4 separate regions of the Homo sapiens genome follow, and all the other regions are linked to region 2. The links come from fine-mapping of genetic effects on gene expression. A gene starts in region 2. Each other region holds a variant in brackets. All regions are shown on one strand. Distances are between the middles of the regions.

Region 1 (5,836 bases), 34 kb before region 2:
TGCCCAAGCGGGACAGGTTATTTTTGTTCCTTCAGATTTTGCCAGTGCCTTTGCACCCCTCTCCGGGAGTTACTCAGTTACCAATGTTGGTTTTCTATTTCCAGAGCAAAGGCAGGTCCTCCCCTCCGCGGCTTTCTCCACCCGAGCGGGGGCTGGGCCTCTGCCTTCCATCCAAGCCTGGGTCCAGGTCCCACAGCCGCGGCTCCCTCGCCTTTGTGGAGGAAGACGGGGGCACCTGAGGGAGAGGGTGCCTCAGCTGTCTTTCATATCTTCCCCTGACCCCTAACCCCACCCTGCTTTCTCCTGGACCATTCCCATCAGCATGCTCTACCTCTCATCTCTAAAAGTATCCCTCTCCAGGATCCGTCTTTGCCAGTACATCGCGCTGACCCTTCCACAGCCGCCTCCTCACAAGAGCAGGGCCCCTTGCTGCCTCCACTTCCTCCCCCAGCCCCAGCCACTGCTTCACTGCAGCTGTTCATATGCAACTCGGCCTGAGGAGAGCTTCTGTGCCTCCCATGTCCTCTCCCAGCAGCCCGGCCTCAGCTGACTACCCTCCGGAGGCCCTCTCTTCTCCCTTCTGCTTCCCCATGCGGCGTTGTCCTTCTGGTTCCTTCTTGCCTTGTCTGTGATTCCTTCTTGCCTTGTCTGTGATTCCTTCTCAGGCCTCTTGGCAGGTTTCTCTTCAAAGTGACTGGAAAGCTAGTGCCACGTGGACTTGGTCCTGCCATCCCCTCTGCTGTGTTTCTGTGGTTTAGACACCATCTGTATGGTGGCAAACCCCATTCTTCCTCTGAGTTCTGACCCCCAGAAGCAGTTCCCTTGAACACTTCTGTTGGAGGCCTCGCGGACATTTCGACTTAATGCATCCAGATGACAACCCTTGATTCCCCCCTGTCACCCCCAATCTAGCCTGCCTCACCTTCATCTTTCTAGTTGCTGAAGACTGCAGTCCTTGGTGCTGCCTTACCTTTCACATCCAATATATCGTCCAGTCCACCAGATCCCACAAAAAATGCACTTGCTTTGCCACCATTCTTCTCAATGGCCACCATGGCCCTGGTTTTTCTAAGCCACCAAAGTGACTGGAAAGCTAGTGCCACGTGGACTTGGTCCTGCCGTACCCTCTGCTGTGTTTCTGTGGTTTAGACACCATCTGTATGGTGGCAAACCCCATTCTTCCTCTGAGTTCTGACCCCCAGAAGCAGTTCCCTTGGAGACTTCTGTTGGAGGCCTCGCGGACATTTCGACTTAATGCATCCATGAAATCCTCTCTTACCTGGACTCCACAGTGGCCTCATGACTGGCCTGCCTGCTGCCAACCCTCACCTCCTCCATTTCAATCTCCAGGAAGTATGAAGAATTGTCTTTTTGGGAGGATCACTTGAGGCCAGGACTTTGAGACCAGCCTGGGTAACATAGCTTGACCTCATCTATTAAAAAAAAAAAAATCAGCCAGGTGTGGTGGCATGCACCTGTCATCTCAGCTACTCGGGAGGCTGAGGTGGGTGGATCACTTAAGCCTGGGAGGTCCAGGCTGCAGTGAGCTGAGACTGCACCACTGCACTCCAGCCTGGGTGACAGAGTAAGACCCTGTCTCAAACAAACAAACAAACAACCAGAACTGTCTTTTAATAGCATTCGGTTCATGATATCTTTTCTCCAGAAGCTTTCAGTGTGCCCATGCGTGTGTGCTGTGTGTGTGCATATGTGCACATGCATGTGTGTGTGTGTTTGGAATGTTACCATAGCCTGTGAGGCCCTGAGTAATTCCACACTTTTCCCATTTTCCCAGCCTTATCTCATACCCCTTATCCTTGGCCAGGTGCTTGAGTCTTTCAGCTCCCACTAGTCAAACTTCTTTTCCTACCATAGGGCCTAGAATCCCATCCTCTCCCAGCATGTGCATGCGTGCGCACACACACACACACACACACACTGAGCTGGCCCCATTTTCATTCTTCACATCCACCTGAGTGTCATCTCTGCAGAGAAGTTTTCCTCACTGCCCTGTCCAAACCAGCCCTCCTCTTCTAATTTCTATTTCAGTCCTCTATTTGATTTCTTTTCATAATAGCATGGATTGTACTTTGTAATAATTTTATTTATTTGTTTCTTCACCTTCACCTTTGCTGTTCACTCCAGAATGTAAACTCTACAGGGCAGGGGCTATGTCTGATATTTCCATCATTGTAACCCCAATGCTTAGCAGACGGCTTGGCACTTGGTAGATGTGCAATAAAAATGTGTCGGATGAGTCAGTGAATAAAAGAATGAATGGTCCCAGTTGCTAAGGTCATTTAGGTTCTGGTGGGACTGGAAGACAGGTATGGAGGAAGGGAAGACCATGGTTGGTAGAAAGGCACTGCCTAGGTAGGCTTTCCAGACTTCACAAATAAAACTACAAGATGCCCAGTTAAATTTGAATTTCAGATAAACAATGGTTTCTTTTAGTATAGGTACATCTGACATTCAAATTCAATTGGGTATCCTATATTTTATCTGGACTAGGTGAGTGAGGAGGGTGTGGTGGGAGGGGGTCCAGGCCTGATGGAGTAATGGGACCCAGGGAGTGTGCAGAGCCCTGGGTTCAGGTGGAGCAGTTATGGAACCTAATCTTAGGCAAGAGCAGGGCACGTCATCACAGCGCACCCGTATGGGACACTCCCAGGGTGATCCTTGGCCCAAGAAAGAAACGAGGCGAAGAGGAAGTGCTGAGAGACACTGAGAGCTGGGTGGGGCTTGGGGGAGGTGGGTCCTGGGGTGGGGATGGGGACTGAGATCCTTGCCCTTTGAAGGTGACAGACAGAACCTGTCAGATGCTTCCTTCTCCATGACCTTCTGACTTGCCAACTTTAGCTCAACACATGCTTATTGGATACCATAGAATGAGCTGGGCACTGTGCCAGGTACTGAGGGCACAGAGATAAGTGAGACTTGTCCCTGCCCTCAAGTGCTCAGTGCTTGAGCACTGGACAACATGATGTGGCCCTGGAGGAAGCCAGACCAGTTCCACTGTCCCCCAGACCAAAGTCGGGTACCCTCCATTTCATCCTAAAACAACCCCACAAAGTAGTCATTATTACTGCCATTCCCTAAACAAGGAAATGGGTGCTCAGGTGATTCTGCAACTTAGCAAAGGTTACACAGGAAGTCAGGGATGGAGCTGGGATGCAGTCTCCATTTCTCGTTCCTTGAAGAACTCATCCCAGTTGGAGGGGCATGGCTGTTCAAGCCAGGTCAGAATCTAGTGGGGCTGGAGGAG[G/T]TAAGTAGAGAGAGGATTCTCCTGGGCTTGGCAGTGCTGCCCTGCAACAAGGGCAGAGCACAGACTTCAGGGGCCTCTTTATGCCAGGGCCCAGTGGGGCTGCCTGGACACACAATAGGGAAGGCCATTAGCACTCGTCCACTGGCGTCCTGGTCTTGCCTGCGTCTCCCTGTGACATGTGTGACATTGAACACATTGTCTACAGCCCTCACTCCTCTGGAGGCTCTAAACCCTGGAGAACATAAGCAGTGTGAGAGAAGGAGCTGGTGAAATGCTAACCCCAGCAGGTACAGTGGCTTGCACTTGTAATCCCAGCATTTTGAGAGGCCGAGGCAGGAGAATCATTTAATCCCAGGAGTTTGAGACCAGCCTGGGCAATGGAAGGAGACCCTGTCTCAACAAAACATAAAAAAAAAAATAGCCAGGCATGTTGGGGAGTGCTGCCTGTAGTCCCAGTTATTTGGAAGGGTAAGGCAGGAGGATTTCTTGAGCCCAGCTGGTTGAGACTGCAGTGAGTCATAATTGTGCCACTCCACTCCTGCCTGGGTGACAGAGCAAGAATCTGTCTCTAAATAAATAAATAAATAAATAAGAAATCCTAACCACATCCTGTTCCCCCAACCCTCAAGAAGCCATTCCTTCTAACTCTGGGGATGCAGCTGGGCTCATGTTCCTTTGCTTGGAAATCTCTTAAACTAGGTTTCGCTTTTAGAGCTCATCCTTGCCCTCCTTCTCCCTCCAGGAAGGCCAGGACCTGGCTCCATTTTTACAGGTGGGCTATGTTGGGCCTCAGAGATCTCTGGGGATGGGGAGGCTATATAGCTCATCTTGCTCCCCCTCCCCACGGTCTTTCATGCCCAAGAAGTAGAAACTCCTACCTAACTTTGTCCCTCCCAGTGGCATGTATGGCAAATCACTGTAGCCCAGGTCTCTGAGAATCAAGATGACCTTGGAACTTGCTGTTCAATGGATTCTTTTTCTGTCTTTCCAGTTCCCCATGGCTCTATCTCTTTATTTTCCTTTGCATCATCTCTATGTCATTTCACAATTAATTAATTAATTTTCAAGCAGATGCAGTCTGGGTATAGGGAATCCCCTCCTTGGGGCCCTCATAAGACTGACATGTGGGATTTCCTAGCTCTAGATCCAACACCTAACGAGTGAGTCTAAACATCTACTTTGTGCCTTTTCCCAATAACATTTGATCTAATTCTTAGGGCTGTCCCTGCATGTGCACACACACAGTCACACATACACATACTTGTACATACATATGCTCTCACCCATACTTGCACACACATTCACATGTACACACTAGCACAAGGACTGCTGTCTGTAACACAAGGTGTTGGTGTGTTAGGAAAGGGGCCTCTGTCACTGACAGGGAAAATTCTTCCTCAAGCACTTTGTTGAACGAACACCATGATGGGCCACTTGGGTTGTGGAAGGCAGTCCTTGCATGGAGTGGGCTTTGACTGAGACAGACATAACCAACATAGGAATTTGTGGGTGAGTGTTGGTTAGTTTAGAAGGAGATTGGACGAGGAAGGAGCCACAACATGGTAGGAGGCTTGAGTCCAAGTAGAAGACAATTCCCCATGGTGGGAATATGGGGAAAGGAAAGAACTGAAAGACTTTTAAGGACAAAGATTCTAATGATCAACATTACGACTGATTCTGTTATGCAGCAAAGAACTGCCCCTCAGTTACTTTCAGCTCTACAGTAGTCCACATACAGTAGACACCGCCTGGCCTTTGTGGTAACATCTTAGAGAAATTAAGAAATATGGGCTGAATTACATGTTTGAACCAATGGAGGCGGAGGTGGAAATGTCCACAAGAGGCAAGACATTAAAAAAAGAGATAAAATTCCATAGAAGCAGGAACTTAGAGCCAGAAGTGACTGAAAGAAACATAAGCCCAACTCCATTCCCACCTCAAACATTCCTAGACATACTAGGATTAGATACCTGGATTTCCCACCATTTGTGGGATGAATGTCTGAGTACATACCATTTCAACAAAGCTGAGTTACATGTAAATACACATATTAAATCACATGTGTGTTCACACTCACATGAGCATTACTTTTCTCTTCATAGAGCATGAATGAAGCAGTGATTTGGCAAGTATCAGGTTAATTTTACAAATGAAAACAGCCAAACCAGAATATTTAGGTTCAAAAATCACCACTGGCCTGAATGATCTGGTTTGGCCACGTATATTTAGCAAGTTAACTAGAAAAGTGCCAAAGTCCTGCACTTGTGCTTGCCAGGTGCACTTTTAATAGGGTGGCCTAAATCCTTGCAGATATACAGATACCTCTCCACACATTATTATTAAGTAGATCTCTCCACATATTATTACATCTAATGTATATTTGTAAGCAACTCCATGATTGTCCTAGATTATCTAGGACTGATCTTTCATACTAGGCTGGTTTTCTGCAGCTACCTGTCATGTGACTGACCCTAAAAAGGAGGTCATGCTAGAAAAGGCCATTGTTGCTTCTCTTCTTGTTGTTGTTTCATTCTCTATTAATGCGTGCTCAGAAAATGCAATGAAATTTAC
Region 2 (5,836 bases):
TGTTAACTTCAGGGAAAAGAAAAATTAATGTCTTCTGCAGAGGTTCTGGTACCTGGTTTATGGAGAAGTCAAGATAGGGGAATTTAAAACTATTAACTCTGTAGTGCAGGAATGGTGCTTGTCATCGAGGCATCAAGAGAACACGGTGTGGGACAGCAACCTCCCTTTCCAGTTGTGTACCTGGCTAGGGAGAAGTAGGGTCCAGAGACAATTAGGGATTACAACAGAACACAGGAGAAGTGAATCTCATATGATGTTGCTTTTCTACTTTCACAAAATAACCTTCCTTCTAAGAATAAAACAGGCAAAAAAAAATCTATCTTTGTTCAATGTAAATACAAGATGGTTCATTAGCAGGTGCCAAACCATGCAATATAGAAAATGCATGCGCTACAAAGACCAGAGAATTGACAGTTCCTTTCCTGGAGATGTTGGAAAAGCCTGATGGAATAGGCAGGACCTGAAAGAGGAGAGGGTCTGGAGAGGTGGATGAGAGAGAACAGTTCAGGTATTGGGGGAATATGGGAAGAACATGGTTACAGACAAGGTGACGGGGCTGATGACGGCATGTGCTGGGGACCGTGATGACATCTATAATCTTGCCCATCTGCCAAACGCAGAACCTCTGAGTTCTTCAACTCTGTGAAAAGTGCATGCATGGAAATTTTTTTTTTGTTTTTTAGAGGCAGCATGAAACAGTGGGATGTGCAGAGAGAAGATCTGGGTCCAGTAGCTCTGACACTCCTCAGCTGTAGAAACCTTGACAACTCTGCACATCAGTTGTACAATGGAACGGTATTTTTTACTCTTCATGTCTGAAAAGGCTATGATAAAGATCAAGTAAGATATTCCAAAGAATTTTTAAATTATAAAGCAGTTTACACATGTGAATTACAAGTACCTCTCCTCCAACAAAGGCTGTGAAAAAAGACTAACTCTCAGTTACTACGGAATACTTAGTACGCATCTTCCACCATCTTTTGATAAGGTTTATTTGCAAGATGTCAGGCCAGTCAAGCACCACAAAAGTGACTTCTGAGTGTTCAACCTCTTTCAGAGGCTCATGGGACTTGCAGAGAATGTCCCAAGGTATTGGTGGTTGGAAATTTCCTCTTATGCTTTTCTTCCCACAAGAATCACCGCTAGCTTTCCCACGATGCTTTGGGCAAGGGGATCCTTCCTATTACTTTCATTACAGGTAGAGAATCCATCCATCAGACTGGCAGGACCTCTAAAGGGGCACTTCATCTGTTTCTCAGAATAAATGGTCCATTCCCAAGTTCAATCAAACGCTATGCCTCTCTTCTGTCTTTTGTTTAAGTCTTCCCAGAAAGTTGCCATGATACCTCCATAATGAACTGTTGCAGTGCTTAACAAACTTCACTGTTGGAAGGTTCTTCCTTCTATTTAATCTCAGTCTATTTCTTTTAACCCTATTATTGAGTTGTGAGGGGCTGGTTATGATGTAGTCCAGCATAGCTGTCTCAGAAATGGTTCAGAGACCATTGCACCAGCAGATTTGCTGGGCTCTAGCACTAGTCCTTCATTGATTAGCTGAGTCATGTTGGGCATATCACTTAAACTTTCTATGCCTCAATTTCCCACCCTTTCACCTTGTCCCTCTGAGCCATGGTTTCCTCCTCTGTAAGAGGCGAATAGCAATATCTTCCCTGGCTAAAGGAGGTCATCGACTGCTGGATGATTTTGTGAGCATTTCTATTCCAGAAGATTATGTTGTAATTACTATTTATTTATACATTCTCCCACTGCACAGTGAGTTCTAAGAAGAGGGAACCCCATCTTTTTCACCTGTCCTCTAGCAGATAGAGCGGTGCCTATCACACAGTCAAGGGAAGCAGAGAATAACTTTAAGCCAAAATTTCCTGTGGTGAGTTTTCCGCAGCCATCCACAATTCCAGGTCTCAGGAGGTAGTCTTTATCTTTTCCCCTCACGCCGATGCCACGGGGCGGGGGGGGAAGGCGGAACTCGGGACCAGGGACCAGGGAAGCTGAGACTCAGCTCCCTTGGGTGAGATTCGCGACAGGCCGGGAACGTGGTCAGCCGCGGTCGCTGCCAAGGTGATATCGGGTGGGAGCAATGACGCAACTCCGGTTTCCACTTCGGCCCCCCGGGATATTTTACCCTAATCTGTGGGATCAGGCTGAGCTTCCTGGCGTTCTGCAGCAGTAACAGGTTGGCGAGCGGAGCCCGGGATTTCCCATTCGTGCGGAGCTAGCCGCCGGTGCCAGTCGGCAGGCGCCCCCCAGCGTCCCGCGGACGACGAAGTCCTGGCCTGGTCAGCCCAGGTGGGGGTGACGCACCTGGCTCAGGCGTCCGCAGCAGGCTGGGTAGAACCACGGCAGGAAGGGTGGGGGGCTGCATCCCCGATTAACACAGGCTGAAGCGGGTATCCGCACCTATAATCATCGACAACTCTGTCCCACAGAGGGCAGAAGCGTGCCTTGCCCTATGGACGACGGTCGATGAAAATTTCACGAGTTAGAGTATCTAAGGCTACAGCGTGGCCTATAGGGTGGTTGATTCCAAGTCAAGATGGTTGCAGCGCCAACGGAGCTCCTGGCAAGAGAGGACTGGACCTGTGGGCGGGGCGGAGGGGCGGGGCGGGGCCGGGGCGGGGCCTGACCGAGAGGCGGGGCCAGGTGCTGGGCTGTCTCTGCTTGTCAAAAGGCGGCAGCGGAGCCGTGTGCGCCGGGAGCGCGGAACAGCTTGTCCACCCGCCGGCCGGACCAGGTGCGAACCCGGGAGCAGCGGGAAAGGGGGTCTCAGGATAGGGACTCGGGGTCGGGGCGTCTGGGATACCGGGGCCTGAGCGCCCGGCTGCGAGCATTAGAGTCTAAGTCTCAGCGGTAAACTTGGCTACTGAGGTCCGGGCTGTCGTGCCATGAGGCTGGGACACTAAGGGGCACTGAGGTTTGAGAAAGCTGAAGTTCGTGCCAGGCTGGCGAGGGGAGCAGCGACATCCTCGGCGCTTAGGAGAAATGCTCCGCTAACACAGTGCTTAGCACTTGGGCAACAAGAAGTATTTGTTTCCTTCTTCTGTCGGGGCGCCTTGGCATGGAGTGGAGGAATAAGAAAAGGAGCGATTGGCTGTCGATGGTGCTCAGAACTGCTGGAGTGGAGGGTGTGTAACCTTATTTATTGTCTTACAGGGCCCAGGTATGGTCACCTGTGATGGTGGAGTTGGGTCTTTTAAGTAATTTTTTTTTTTTTTTTTTTTTTTTTACTTTTCTTTGAACTACCAATGAGTTTAGACCTAATTGGCCCTATTTTTTTTCAGGACAGCCTGTCAATAGATGTTCAGAGGAACTCAGGGGCAAGCATTTAAATGAGGAAGGGGCTCAAGGAGTAGTTTCTGTTTGAAAAGTGAGGTGCCCTGGATCTGTGGGTGGTGGTGAGGAAGATTCAGAAGTATCTAGGAGGGAACAGCCTGTGGTCTCCAGGGCCAGTGTACAACTGCCCCTCCTTCTCTTCACCCAGGGACCAGAGTCTGAGACCTAGCCTGGGCTGGGGGAGCCTTAGGTCTCCAAGCCCAGACCCTTCTCACAGTTCCTCCTCCTTCTCCTCCTCCTCCTCCTCCTCCTCTTGTTCCTCCTCCTCCTCTATGCGTGCGGTGAGTGAGTCAGCCTCCTGTCTGGGCTCAGTTGCAGCCAAAGGGGCCAGAGCCCAGGCAAGCAGTTGGGCAGGCATTTTCTGAGCATTGCAGAAGCTCTCCTGGGCAGAGTTCAGCTCTGCTCCAGCTCCCTGCTGGAAGGTGGTCTTCCTCATGGGCAGGGGCTCAGATACCCAACACAGCAGTGCTTATGGAATGGCTATGAGATGATTCTAGCAGGAGGTGACCGTGAAGGGATAGTGGCTTTATGATAAATCTACATCTCATCTTTCTCCTGGGATAAGGAGGTGCATCCCAGCACTGCAGGCTTTTCCAGCCCTTCCTTCCATTTCTGCCTAGTGGTCTCATTAGCAGCCCATCTCTGCTAGTGAAGGGGGTGAGCAAAAGAAATTAGGAAAGTCTGGGGCCAGAGAAGTCATGGTGTTGGCAAAGAAGGCTTTAACTCAGGCTAGGGAGTGAGGGTGATTTGCTGAGGTAGAAATGGGTTATCTGAACATTGGAGCCTCAATTCTATGGACTAAGAGTGTTGTGTGTTGAGAGACCTGCCGTCCCTTCCCTGTCCAAGTGCTGGAGGGAACTGTGAGTCTTTCTGAAACAGTCTCAGGGCTGGCATGCAGCCAGACCAGAAGGTAGTAAGACTGCACATTTCTCCCTGGCTTTTGTTTTGGGTGCTAGAGATCGTTGAACAGAAGTAGCCCTCCCTGCAGAGTCCGTGGCCCCCACTCAGCAGCCTCTCTGGACCTATTTGAGAAGAGTCCTGGGAGGCCAATCCAGCTGTGGGGCTGACTCAAACTGCAAAAAGCTGGGGAATTCACAGTCTATGCTCTGGCTGGGTCCCATGGCTTTGGGTTTGGCTGGTCTTGATCAGCTGTGACTTGGACCCTTACCAAGCTAAAGGAGGGACTAGAAAATGGGGTAAGAAAGGAGGGGAAAAAATGAGAGTTAGAAAGCCTTCCCAACCCTTTACTCCTCTTCGGCAGAGGCCATCAGACTTTGTTTGTATAAACATTATGGAAGGTCGGGTGCTGTTTGGGGTGCCCTGATAGTTTGTGTTTATGGTTTCTCAGTATTCTTCCCCTATTTGACCTCAAAACTGATCTCTTTTGTAACTAAGCCCCAGAGGAAGCTCCGAGAGGACCTCCTGAACCCCTACACTCTACCCCCAGAACAGATAGCAGGTGTCCAAAGCCCAGGCTGTGAATGGAGAAAGGCCTGGGACCGAGTGGGCTACATCAGGTGGCTACTACATCAGGTGGTTATCTAAGACACGAAAGGGAGTTCCCATTGTTTCATTCCTTACCCCACATCCTAAGGAGGCACCGCTGTCCTGGCTGGAATAGGCATCTGGAACCTCTGCTAGAAACTCGCTGTTGCCTGTGCAGCAGTCAGGTCCTAGGGGCCAGAGAGCCAGAGACGGGAGGACCACCTAGATGACATTTGGTGTGTTGCTGAATAAAGAATTACAGGGCTCCAGCTTCCATTTGTCCCTGCTGCAATTCTGTTTTGGATGCAGGTAGAGGGAAATAAGGAATTGACCAGATTTGATTAAGAGCCTCTTGTGTGCCCAGCATGACTCCAGGCCCTCTGAGGGATAGCAGGAAGCAGAACCCACCAGACCAGGCCCCTGACTCCAAGACAGTTTGAGCCCCAGGGTGGGCAGCAGTTCTCAGGCTCTCCCTCCACTATTGTCCAGTTCTGAGAGGATCCAGCTGGGCTGAAGCCAGCCTGGCTGCCACTCTGGGCCACCAAGGCCTTGCTTGTCATTTTGCTTCCCTCTGATTTGTCCCTAACCTTTTCCTGTGTCAGTGCCCTCCTAGATATGCTAGAAAGAGTGCCTGTGTAATGTATCTTGCAAACTGGGATACTTCTGAGAGTGAAAGGGGATGCCATGCATGGTTATACCAGGACAATGGACATAAACCCAAACTTTCCAGGGAAAAATGGAATATTAATCACCCTAGTGATCATCACTCCAAACTCAGCAGAGGTCACAGCAGTGATGAGGGGATGATAAGGTTGGGGGAGGCTTAATGCTCAAGGGAAAACAGGGGTAGCTTAATTCTGAGGACAGCCCCCGACACCCTAGCCTGCTCCCTGGTGTTATCAGCCAATTCTCGTCTTTTCCCTGGGGCGGCACTGCTCCCGGCCACCCTGTCCTGGGACCCAGCCCACCACTCGTGTGACTTCCCTTCACCCTTGACTTG
Region 3 (5,836 bases), 44 kb after region 2:
GAATCAGACTTCATGTCCCCTCCTACCTGCCTCCTGGTCCCCATAAACAGCGCTGCATCCATGGTGAAGAGCAGCACCAGCCTGGGGTAAATCAGGGGGCCCTGCCCAGGAGCACCCTACCACGTGGTGGGAACCCAGCAGCCCAGAAGCGATGTCCACCCCATCCCTCAGCCACGCCCACCCCAGCCTAATTCTCTCCTGTGGAGTCCTGTGTCCCCATCCTGCTGTATGCCCAAGGTAGCTTCTCGCCACACCACCCTCCTCATCCCAGTGCAGGGAGCAGTACTCAGTTCTAGATGGGCTGGTGGAGCGGGGATCCAGTTAAAATAGAAACGTCCTGATGCTTTTTACTTTCCTGAAGGGAAGACTGTCCAGGAAGAGACATTCCCAGCCTCAGGTTAGTCCAGCTTCAGGAGGCCTCACCAGTGTGAAGTCCCCCGGCCTCAGAACCCTGGGAGAGCTGCACATTTCTTATCTGGGCTGGGTTTTGTCCCCAAGGCATAGCATCCCAGAGACAATTGAGTGTCTCAATATTTGTAAAACCACAGGAAGAAAGCTAAAAGCCCAGGCTCCTGCTGTCCGAGCAAGGAGGTGGGCCTTCCATAGAAGAGGCACAGGAAGGGAAAGGATGAGGACAGAAACCCTGTGTATTGACCAACTACTGTGTGTCAGATAGCACATCAAGCACATGCATTTTCTTCTGAAATTCTCACAACACTCCCTAAATACGTAAATACTTTTATTTTTTCAATAGCTGAGGAAGCTCAGAGGAATTAAAATATCATGGCTCTCAGCTAATAAGATGATGGTATCAGCATTCATTCTAATCTAGGTCTTTCTGCTTCCAAAGGGCAGGCTTGTGGGCCACACCCGAGGCAGCCTCTCGTGGCCCCAGTGGGTCGGAGCTCACTCCATTGTGCATTTCCAGGCACTTTCACATGCTCTAAGAGATGGATTGAAGAGAGCTTGGTCCCACCAAAGACTCATTTTCTCTCTTTTCCATTCTTAGTTGACTTTATACCCTGGGAACCCAAGAAATTTTATAACTGAGTTCTTGCTTTTTGCTTATACTATTACCTGTCCTGCACAGAACCACACATTGTGGTAACTTGTTTGATGTTTTTACAGATGTATGTCTTTTCTCCCTGGTGTTAGTAAAGTACCTGGCACATAGTAGGTGCTCAATAAATGTGTGGAATCAATGAATATTAGCTCCTCATTATGCTTCTTTCTCTCTGTATATCTTCCACAGGTCTATAGATCAGTAAGATTCTCCCAAACCTGATCATGTCTGTGCCGTTCATTTGGAAACATTTTATGTCCTCTTCCTGTGGTTGTTCTTAGCCCATCCTTGGCATCTTGAAATGTTTTCAAATTGTTTATGTTGCAGATCTTGGCTTCGTTAAGGAGAGAACATGTCTTGCATGGGAATAACTTGCGCAAAATTATTTCACACTCAGCAAGGAGCTTAAAATGAAGTCAAAAAAAGCTTCTGAGCAGCCATGTAGGTTTTACAAAGTCCACATGCCAAAACTCATGCACTTTAGACGCCTGATCACCAGACAGCCCAACACTCTTTCAGAACCTGTTTACTCTTATTCTAGGTCAATGGCTTCATATATCATATAGTGTCTTCCTATATGATAGTAATGACATCTTAGGTTCAATCCATTGAAAAAATGATAAGAAATTTCCCATGAAATTAACAAGATCTTTAAACAAATTATTTCGTAAATCACAGTGCATTTGCATATGTGAAAGACTTTAGACTTATTCAGTCCTCAAGCAATGTTGCCTTGCAGAAGGCTCATGGATTGGGCCTGTGTGAAACTGGTAGATCTCAGCATTTCTTCCTCTGTTACCTCCATAGAAGATGGAGGTTGCTATTTGATGCAAGTGACTGGGAGGAATCATGTTATAGGGTTAAACTTGAACTTTCTTTGTCTCTTTAAAGTGGGTAATTTACAAGCTTTGTGACTTAATTTTATTTTCACACTCTTCAGATGGATTGGAACACAATGCCTGTCAAAACTCCATGGCTGAAAGCCAAAGTCCGCTTATAACCAGATGTAATCAGACACAGTAGAGGCTAGTGGTTATGACCTTCCACTCCAGAACCAGACTGCCCAGGTCTAAATGCTGGTTTCACCACTGTTAGCTGTGTGACTTTGAGAAAGGTAGAAAGCCTCTCTGGGCCTCAGCTCCCTCATCTGCTAAATGGGAATAACAACAGCACCTGCCTTAAAGGGTTGTCATGAGGGCTAAATATATGAGTTAATATACAAAAGGCTCTCAGAATAGTGCCTTATAGATAGAAAAACTCTTTATGTGCCATCCAGCATTACGAATATTTTCTTTTTATTACATCAAACTTGATCACCAGAACTTCTAGCTCCCAAGAGATCAGAAGTAAGTCTTAAGGGGGAGAAAGGCACACATCCAGAGGCAGACACCAATAAGAAGACAACGCATAGTTTAACAGGGAGGTGGACACTGGAAGCAAGAAAAGCAGCCCAAGAACTCCAAAGCCCAGCACGCCAAGCCATGCAATGCGGGGCAGACAGCCTCTGACAACTCTGAGGCTGTAACCTTGTCCTGCAATGTTCAGTAATTATTCAGAATGATACCTCTGAATCATCAGGGAAAGGTTATATG[A/T]CGTTAAAAGTGTTCCGTTACAAGGTTTTCTGTCTTGAAAATCTTTCCATAACAATTGTTTCAATAAAAGAGGTCAGCTTTCTCAGCTCTCTGGTGTGCCAGGTGCCATTCACTACATTGCAGGAGACAAGCAGCACTAGAGTACTCACTAGCCTTTCCTGAACCAGGAAAATGATTTGCACACAGTTGGTGTAATCTGTGTGGATGCATTTGATATTTGGTGTCAGACTATTGAGCAGACACCACGGCCAGGTAGCCCCTCCGGTCTAGCCTTTATGGGGGAAATATAAGAATTGTAAGACAAAGGCCGGGCATGGTAGCTCACGCCTGTAATCCCAGCACTTTGGGAGGCCAAGGCGGGCAGATCACCTGAGGTCAGGAGTTTGAGACCAGCCTGGCCAACATGGTGAAACCCCATCTCTACTAAAAATACAAAAAAATTGGCCAGGCATGGTGGCATGTGCCTATAAGCCCAGGTACTCTGTAGCCTGAGGCAGGAGAATCGCTTAGAACCCGGGAGGTGGAGGTTGCAGTGAGCCGAGGTGGTGCCACTGCACTCCAGCCTGGATAATAGAGCGAGAGTCTGTGAAAGAAAGAAAGAAAGAAAGAAAGAAAGAAAGAAAGAAAGAAAGAAAGAAAGAAAGAAAAAGAAAGAAGGAAGGAAGGAAGGAAGGAAGGAAGGAAGGAAGGAAGGAAGGAAGGAAAGAAGGAAGGAAGGAAGGAAGGAAGGGAAAGGAAGGGAGAGAAAAGAAAGAATTGTAAGACATGGACCCTGCCCTTAAGTAACTTGTAATCTAGAGAAAGAGACCTTGAACTTCTTGGGCTCCGTCTATAGGTAATGAATTGAAAACTGTGCTAACCATGAGTCTTACAGAGCAGAAGATAATTGGGTGTCAATGTGTGTGGGAAAGACTAAATATGTAGCAGGCATAGGAAATGAGGCTCAGCAGAAAAAAACAAGGCTTGATGCAGATCAGGGCAATCAAGAAATGCTTCATGGAAAAAGATGGCTATGATGTAGGCACTGAAGAACTGGTAGAACTCATACAGGTTTGGGGGAGAGAAAACCCAGCTGGACGGGCACCTAGCACAACTGGAAATGCAGGGGCGAGCATGAGCAGGTCATGTTCCCAGGCCAGCAGCAATGCCAGCATGCCCAGAACAGAGGCTGTGTCCAGAAGCACTAAGACATGAAGTCTGAAAGTTAGGAAGAGGCCAACTTTAGTTTGGACGTGGTCATCAGTAGGGGCCGAGAAAAGTATCTGGGCAGGAGAATGGCATCACAGAATCACTGGAAAGTTAGCAAAGTCCAGTCAGGCTGAGCTACGTGCCTGTAGACACCATGGTGTGGCTGGCAGAAACAGGTCTCCCTAACTCTGGTCCCCAGGTGAGCAGGAAAGACAAGACACCTAATCTTGGGCTCCCCAAGCGAGGGCTTACCCCCATTGCCTTCCCTGGATGCTCCCTGCCCCTTCCTCTCCCACCCTGCCTGACCTGGTAGGGTCTGTGCAGACACCCACTGTGGGAGGAGAGTTGGCAGCTGTTTGGGCAGGTGAGTCAGTCACCTGGGTGTGGTCTACTCCCAGGCTCCCTGTGGAGGGAAGCACCATCTCTTGCAGTAGCGCTCGCTTTCCTGCCATGCCTGTGGCATTGGCTGTCCACTCCCTCCCAGCATAGGCTCTTCCTCACCCCACAGCAACTTCTCTCGTCCTCCCCCTACCTGAGGGCCTGGGCCAATGGACCTTTCTCAAAGCCTGGAACTCACCCACCCTGGGCTTCTGGTTCCTTTCTCTGCTCTTGTGAAACTCCCCAGTTCTGTGGGCAGATGCCCTGGCAGCAGCAGCACCAAGCAAGTAGCTACAGGCCAAAGGCCCTGGTGCCCACTCCTGCCGTCAGCACTCAGCAAGCCACAGCCAGGAGGTCTGTTTGCCCAGCCGCCGTGCCAGGCACCTTTGCTCCCAGCATCCCCTCCACCCCCACAGCTGCCCCAGCACAGGGAGGCAGGCAGAAGCCTGCAGGTGGTGGTGGGGCTCTCTATGGCCCCACACCCTGATTAGTGGCTGGAGAGAACTTCTAAGATTAGAGCTGCAAGGCCTCACCCTTTGGGGCCTTCAAGAGGACTTGAAAACTTCCATGGACAGAAATGTCAAGGCTGTACATGCTGGAGGAGGGGTGGTTTTGCAGAGAACCAAAGAGGTCTAGTCTTTCTATATTCCACAGTCCCATGTCTGGAAACCTGGATGTGGAGACAGCCACATAGAGGAGTCCTCTCCACATCTCACTTCCAGCGCTATGAGAGCTCTGGCATCCTCTCTTCACCCTGATATCTTCTTCAGGATCATGGAACATCAGGGTAGGGAAGAGAAGAGAACTAACATTTAGTGAGCATCTGCTCTGGGCCAGGCATGCATCCAGTTCTCAAATCAGTTGATCCTTTGAGGCAGGTATTATTACTTCCCCCACCTGCATGTCAACACACACAGACACACACACACACACTTTATGGAGGAAGGTACAAGAAAGGAACCTTGGAAGAACTTACATGGTCCAAATCTCTCATTTTACAAACAAAAGAACAAAAGCCCAGAGAGTTTGCCCAAGGTCCCACAACTTGTTCTTGAGAACCCCGACTCCCTAAAGCCCAGATCATCCCCCCTCTCAAATCCTCTTTTTCTTCTTCTTGCATGTGCCTTCCTTTTCACCATAGCAAACCCAATTTTTCTTCACACAGTGGAGTGGGAGTCTCCGTGGCAGGAGGACCCCCGAGGGAGCCCCGAGTGTTAAAGCCCCTCCTATCTTGGACCTTTACCCCCAACCGCAGGAGGAAGGTTTCCTGGAGGAGCTGCTGGCCAGCCCTCCTGACTCCCCTTCCCACCCCACAGTCATTCTGACAGATGAGGAAGTGCAGAGGAAGCGGGAGATGATCCTGAAGCGGAAGGAGGAGGAGGCCTTGAAGGACAGTCTGCGGCCCAAGCTGTCTGAGGAGCAGCAGCGCATCATTGCCATACTGCTGGACGCCCACCATAAGACCTACGACCCCACCTACTCCGACTTCTGCCAGTTCCGGGTATGTCTGCCTGCTGGGAGGATGAGCCGGTCCAGAGGAGAAGCACTAGTGGAGCCAGGGCCCAGGGAGTAGGGACAGAGGGCAGGGGACATCCTGAACAGAACTGGGGTAGGG
Region 4 (5,836 bases), 65 kb after region 2:
TTATTATTGCTGTTGTTATTTTACAAGGGTCTAGGGAGAGACCCTTGTTTGATTTTAGCTGCAGAACGTATTGGTCCAGCTTGCTCTTCAGTGGGAGAAAACACTTGTAAGTTGCTAAACGAGTCAATCCCCTCATTCAGGAAAACTGACAGAGGAGGGCGTGACTCACCCAAGCATATATAACTAGCTAGAAGTGGGCCAGGACAGGCCCGGCGCGGTGGCTCACGCCTGTAATCCCAGCAGTTTGGGAGGTCGAGGTAGGTGGATCACCTGAGGTCGGGAGTTCGAGACCAACCTGACCAACATGGAGAAACCCTGTCTCTATTAAAAATACAAAAAAAAAAAAAAAAAAAATAGCCGGGCATGGTGGCGCAAGCCTGTAATCCCAGCTACTCAGGAGGCTGAGGCAGAAGAATTGAACCCAGGAGGTGGAGGTTGCAGTGAGCTGAGATCGTGCCGTTACTCTCCAACCTGGACAACAAGAGCGAAACTCCGTCTTAGAAGTGGACCAGGACAGGACCAGATTTTGGAGTCATGGTCCGGTGTCCTTTTCACTACACCATGTTTGAGCTCAGACCCCCACTCTCATTCCCCAGGTGGCTGACCCAGTCCCTGGGGGAAGCCCTGGATTTCAGAAAGAGCAAGTCTGGATCTGGGACCCTTTCCTTCCTTCCCTGGCTTGTAACTCCACCAACCCATCAGAAGGAGAAGGAAGGAGACTCACCTCTGCCTCAATGTGAATCAGACCCTACCCCACCACGATGTGGCCCTGGCCTGCTGGGCTCTCCACCTCAGCCTTGGATAATGCTGTTGCCTCATCTATAACATGCATTTGTCTTTGTAATGTCACCACCTTCCCAGCTCTCCCTCTGGCCCTGCCTTCTTCGGGGAACTCCTGGAAATATCAGTTACTCAGCCCTGGGCCCCACCACCTAGGCCACTCCTCCAAAGGAAGTCTAGGAGCTGGGAGGAAAAGAAAAGAGGGGAAAATGAGTTTTTATGGGGCTGAACGGGGAGAAAAGGTCATCATCGATTCTACTTTAGAATGAGAGTGTGAAATAGACATTTGTAAATGTAAAACTTTTAAGGTATATCATTATAACTGAAGGAGAAGGTGCCCCAAAATGCAAGATTTTCCACAAGATTCCCAGAGACAGGAAAATCCTCTGGCTGGCTAACTGGAAGCATGTAGGAGAATCCAAGCGAGGTCAACAGAGAAGGCAGGAATGTGTGGCAGATTTAGTGAAAGCTAGAGATATGGCAGCGAAAGGATGTAAACAGTGCCTGCTGAATGATTTCCAAAGAGAAAAAAAGTTTGCCAGAAGTTTGTCAAGTCAACCAATGTAGAAAGCTTTGCTTATGGTAATAAAAATGGCTCATACTTATATAGCACTTACTTTGTTGCAAGTACTGCTGTAAATAAATGCTTTATGCAAACCAATTTGCCTTATCCTTATAAGGACCTTATGGGAGATGAATCATTATTACCCCCATTTGACAGAAAGGATAGCTTGAGCAATGCCACACTAGCAAGGGATGGGATTTGAACCTTCAGCAGCTAGGTTCAGAAGCCACAAATTAACTGCTACATTGTCCTGCTTCCTATTGAGTTGGGGGACCTGACAGACGACTGATGGTCTTGCTAGCTCTCTCCTAGAGAGGAGATAAAAGAGGTTCCCATTCCTAAAGCAGGCCCTGAGCCAGGAAAATTAGAGGTGCTGGACCAAACTGTGCTCTACTCCCAGGAAGTGTGCAGTCAATATATGACACCTACGTGAGACCCTCAAAAATGAAAACCAAACAGCTACTGGCAAAACTGTGTCTGCCATTAGAGATGGCGGCTGTGCCAGTGACCTGGAGGATTACAAATGACTGCTGTGCAGAAACAGGACTCCTAAGGGGCCCAACTTATGCCGATGCACTCCATTCTGCTTCCCAAGGAAGTGGGGTTTATGATGAAGGGTAGCATTGCTAGGCACAGTAAACAAGAACACAGCATTGTGATCTGAAAATAAGGAAATCATGCCAGCTAATGTATTGATTGAGGATAAGTTGGCCTGGGGATGTGATTCACTCTAATTTTTCAGAAACATCTGAAAATATTTCAAACCAAAGGCTAAAATGTGTTTCAGTGGGATGAGATGGACTTAGGGGAATTGGGGTTAGAACTTGAGGGTTATTTTGTGAAACATGAAGGGACTTAGAGAAAGGAAATCAACAGCTGCATAAATGGGCATGTCTCTGGCTGGAGAAATGTGGAGAATGGAGTTCTGATACACTGTTAGAAGGATCTTATGTAGCATTTTTATAGCTGACCTAGAAGAACACAAAATTTCCAAGGCTGTGTTATAATGCGCTTTTCCAGGTAAACCAAGAGGAATATACCCCAGGAAGGTTGCATAATTAGGATCAAGTGTTTTCAAGTTTTCATATTCCAAGCTTTGGTTCTATGCCTACACTGTTCAATCCAGTAGCCACTAGCTACATGTGAGTATTTAAATGAAATAAAGGTAAACATCTAGCTTGTCAACCGCACAAGCCACAGTTCCAGTATTTGATAACCTCAGGGCTACCGTAAGAGACAGTGCAAATACACAACATTTTCTTCCTTTTTTCTTTCTTCTTTCTTTCTTTTTTCTTTCTTTTTTCTTCTTTTTTTTTTTTGAGACAGAGTCTTGCTCTGTCACCCAGGCTGGAGTGCAGTGGCACAATCTCGGCTCACTGCAACCTCTGCCTCCCAGTTTCAAACCATTCTCCTGCCTCAGCCTCATGAGTAGCTGGGATTACAGGCACCTGACACCATGCCTGGCTAAGTTTTGTATTTTTAGTAGAGACAGGGTTTCACCATGTTGTCCAGGCTGGTCTTGAACTCCTGACCTCAAGTTATCTGCCCGCCTCAGCCTCCCAAAGTG[C/A]TGGGATTACAAGCGTGACATTTTCATCATCGCAGAATAGTCTATGGGGCAGCACTGGTCTACACAATGCATTCTTATCTGGTACTAATTGTGAATGACTCCATGAGGATGCTGGCGTCATGTGCTTCTGTTGATCTGTAGGGCAGAATGGCCACTAACTTGACATCATATGGAAGTGCTATAGGGAACATCCTCCCCTTACAATGGGCTATGCCACACCTGGGGTAGTTCGAATGAGTCTGCTTCTTAAAAGAGACATAAAGCAAAAACACTGCACAGACCATGGGGTTGATAGGCTCAAAGCATCATGTGGTATAAATAGCTCACTGGTGTGCTAGGAGTATTGATTCCTTTAGCCCTGGAGCAAGCAAACAGGGCCTGCCAGGAGTGACCACAGCCCTTCAATTTCCCCAGCTTCTACCAGGCTCCTTGCAGGCTGCCTGTGCAGTGCAGGTCGGTCTGCCTGCCCCATGGTCCCTGCAGATGACAAGAAGGATGGATGCTGTCTGACACCTCCAGCATGGCCAAGGAGATGGCTCATCATGCTGACATCCTATAGGCAACTAGTCCTCATTGTGGGCAGGGAGCCCGTGAGGCTGATGGGGAGTCTGTGCTCCTCAAGACCCAGAAGCACAGCAGGGTGTGGAGCCTGTGGCTGGCAGGGGGAATCTGAGAGCTCGCTGCTCCAGACAGCTGCTCCGAATCTCTGTATGCACGCATGTGATATATGATATACGGGATGGTGTTGCAAGTTGGGTTCCAGGGACGTAGACTCTGAAATGCAGGTTGAAGTGCAGGGAGCTTGTTAGGGAGCAGTCTCAGGATTATCAGCCCTGGTGGAAGGGAAAGAAGTAGAATTAGCAGTGGGAGAAGTTGGGCTGCAAAGCAGTCTCAGTGAAGGTCTCAATCAACCCGTGTGGGGATCTCTGAAGCTGGGATGGCCCTTTGGATTGCCCCAAGATGAAGTGAGGGAGACACTTCTATATTCCTGCATCAGGTAGTCATTGGACGCAGGCTGTTCCCTGAAGAGCATGTGATTTCATTGACATGACCTCAGCTAGGCGGCTCTTTTCAGCCTGTGGCCCATAGGACATGTCCATAAGGGGTGTTTTCTTCACATTCTATACAACCTGGTGAGCACTTCTGGAGTGAGCTGCTCTGGCTTGGGGAGACGCTGGAAGAGTTCCAGGCCCTCTCCTGTGGCTCTATCCAAGGAGAGTGCTGACTCCAAAGGAGGGGGTTCCCAGCCTCCCCTCAGTTATGGATTAGCTGGGTTATTTTTCCTAAATCATCTTGAGTTTCACCACGAGGTGGTGCTACTGCCCTACAGGGATAGCTTTGAGCCACTTGCCTGGCCCCCCGCCCCCAAAGCCCCAATCACATCCCCCTTCCACCCTTTCTCTATCTCCATGATATGAGTGAGATTCAGCAAGGCTCTGAGTCTCTGCTACTGAGGGCATCTGGTGGTGCTTACCTCTCCTCATGCCAGCGACATGGGGTTAGGGATCTGCTCTCTGGCTTCTCCTCCCAGGCAACAGGGAGTATCTGACCCTCTCACACCTCACCCAAGGGCCTCCCAGGGTCTTGTGCCCCGGGCCTCTGAGCATAGTCCGTGCTGACAGTGAGCGAGGCTGCAGGTTCCCTCTGAGGTCCAGCCAAGTTATGTAGTCCTTCCAGTGTTTCTAACCAGCCACACCACCGAGCTCAGTGCTGGGGATATGGCGATGAACAAGACAGTCGCCACCCCCAAGAAAAGCACTGTGCAGTGGGAGAAGACAGCCCTACAGACAGATGAGTACTAGGCATGCCAAGTGGAAGCTGCAAAGTGTTAACAAGTTAAAAGTAACAGTTAACAAGTAAACTGCTGTCTCCCAGGCCTGGCTCTGCCATTTGCTATTTGTATGACCCTGGGCAAGTTACTTAATGTTTTTGAGCCTCAGTTTCTTCACAGAATGGTAACAATAATAGTACCTACCTCATAGATTTGCTGTTGTTGTGATATAATCTGTGTAAAGCATTTATAACAGTACCTGGCACGTAGTTATCAATCATGTGTTGGCCAACATCACTATTGGGTTGCTGAGATGGCCAAATAAGTTTTTATCAAGGAGGTGACATTGCTCCCACATTCCGACCTCCGATCCCTGATGGGCCCTCTAGATTCACTCCAGGCTGATTTTTTGGGGCGCCTCTTCCGGATCTCAGCTTCTTGGTGCTAGGGACTCCTGCTCCATGATATCTACCAGAACTGAGAGAAGGTGTCATTGTACCACCTGGCCACCAGGGGGCAGGTGTGCCACTTAATAAACCAAATTGGCCCCAGCCGAAAGCTGCCTGGGGAGAAAAGTGTGGGAAAGAGGTGGGAAGATAGGAATATAAATCTGAAATGCATGGAACTCTAGTGACTACTGTCCCCAACTTCTTTCAGTCATGTTCTTTATTTGTCAATGTCAATCCTTCAACAATCACCAACACCTGGACTTCACTACATGCGTATTTACTGACCTATAATTAATGTCAGTATTCTCTGGCAAGGGGTGGCTTATGCCCAGAGAAAAGGGAATCAAGACAAGTTTCAAGAATCGGGTTTGATCGATTCATTTATCCCCATGTTTGTTGGAACCCTGCTTCTCTGATGAGGTATAAACCCCACCATGATCTCTTCAGTGTCATTTGTCTTTGTTCCAGACATTGAAACTTAACCGACCACCGTGTCTGGGTACGTGCAGTTCTCTGAACGTGCAGCTCTGTGGCTTGCCTCTAAACCAGAGTTTCTCAAGCATTTGGGTCCTGGCATCCTTTTACTCTCTTAAAAAGAAGGACCCCAAAGAACTTTTGTGTGTGTGGGTTAGATTCATCAATATGTACCATTAGAAATTAAAACAGACATTTTTAAAGTGTATTCTTTAAATGTGGCAATAATG

Evidence for each region.
Region 1: its variant is fine-mapped to the expression of VDR in whole blood (TOPMed, PIP above 0.99).
Region 3: its variant is fine-mapped to the expression of VDR in adrenal gland (GTEx, PIP above 0.99).
Region 4: its variant is fine-mapped to the expression of VDR in blood mononuclear cells (TOPMed, PIP above 0.99).

The regions. Positions count from the first base shown.
Region 1 is chr12:47,936,288-47,942,123 of GRCh38, reverse strand. No RefSeq gene overlaps it. Among named protein-coding and RNA genes, the nearest start is that of TMEM106C, 24 kb to the left of the region's middle. The variant G/T (reference allele first, on the strand shown) is at 3,266.
Region 2 is chr12:47,901,871-47,907,706 of GRCh38, reverse strand. It overlaps VDR (vitamin D receptor), which reads left to right and starts at 2,713. Exons shown (of 10, transcript NM_000376.3): 1 at 2,713-2,752. RefSeq lists a silencer at 2,591-2,720 and an enhancer at 4,104-4,303.
Region 3 is chr12:47,857,390-47,863,225 of GRCh38, reverse strand. It overlaps VDR (vitamin D receptor), which reads left to right. Exons shown (of 10, transcript NM_000376.3): 5 at 5,538-5,722. Among named protein-coding and RNA genes, the nearest start is that of LINC02354, 31 kb to the right of the region's middle. The variant A/T (reference allele first, on the strand shown) is at 2,656.
Region 4 is chr12:47,837,142-47,842,977 of GRCh38, reverse strand. It overlaps VDR (vitamin D receptor), which reads left to right. Exons shown (of 10, transcript NM_000376.3): 10 at 1-1,441. It overlaps LINC02354 (long intergenic non-protein coding RNA 2354), which reads right to left. Exons shown (of 3, transcript XR_007063292.1): 3 at 2,870-5,160. Among named protein-coding and RNA genes, the nearest start is that of LINC02354, 11 kb to the right of the region's middle. The variant C/A (reference allele first, on the strand shown) is at 2,913.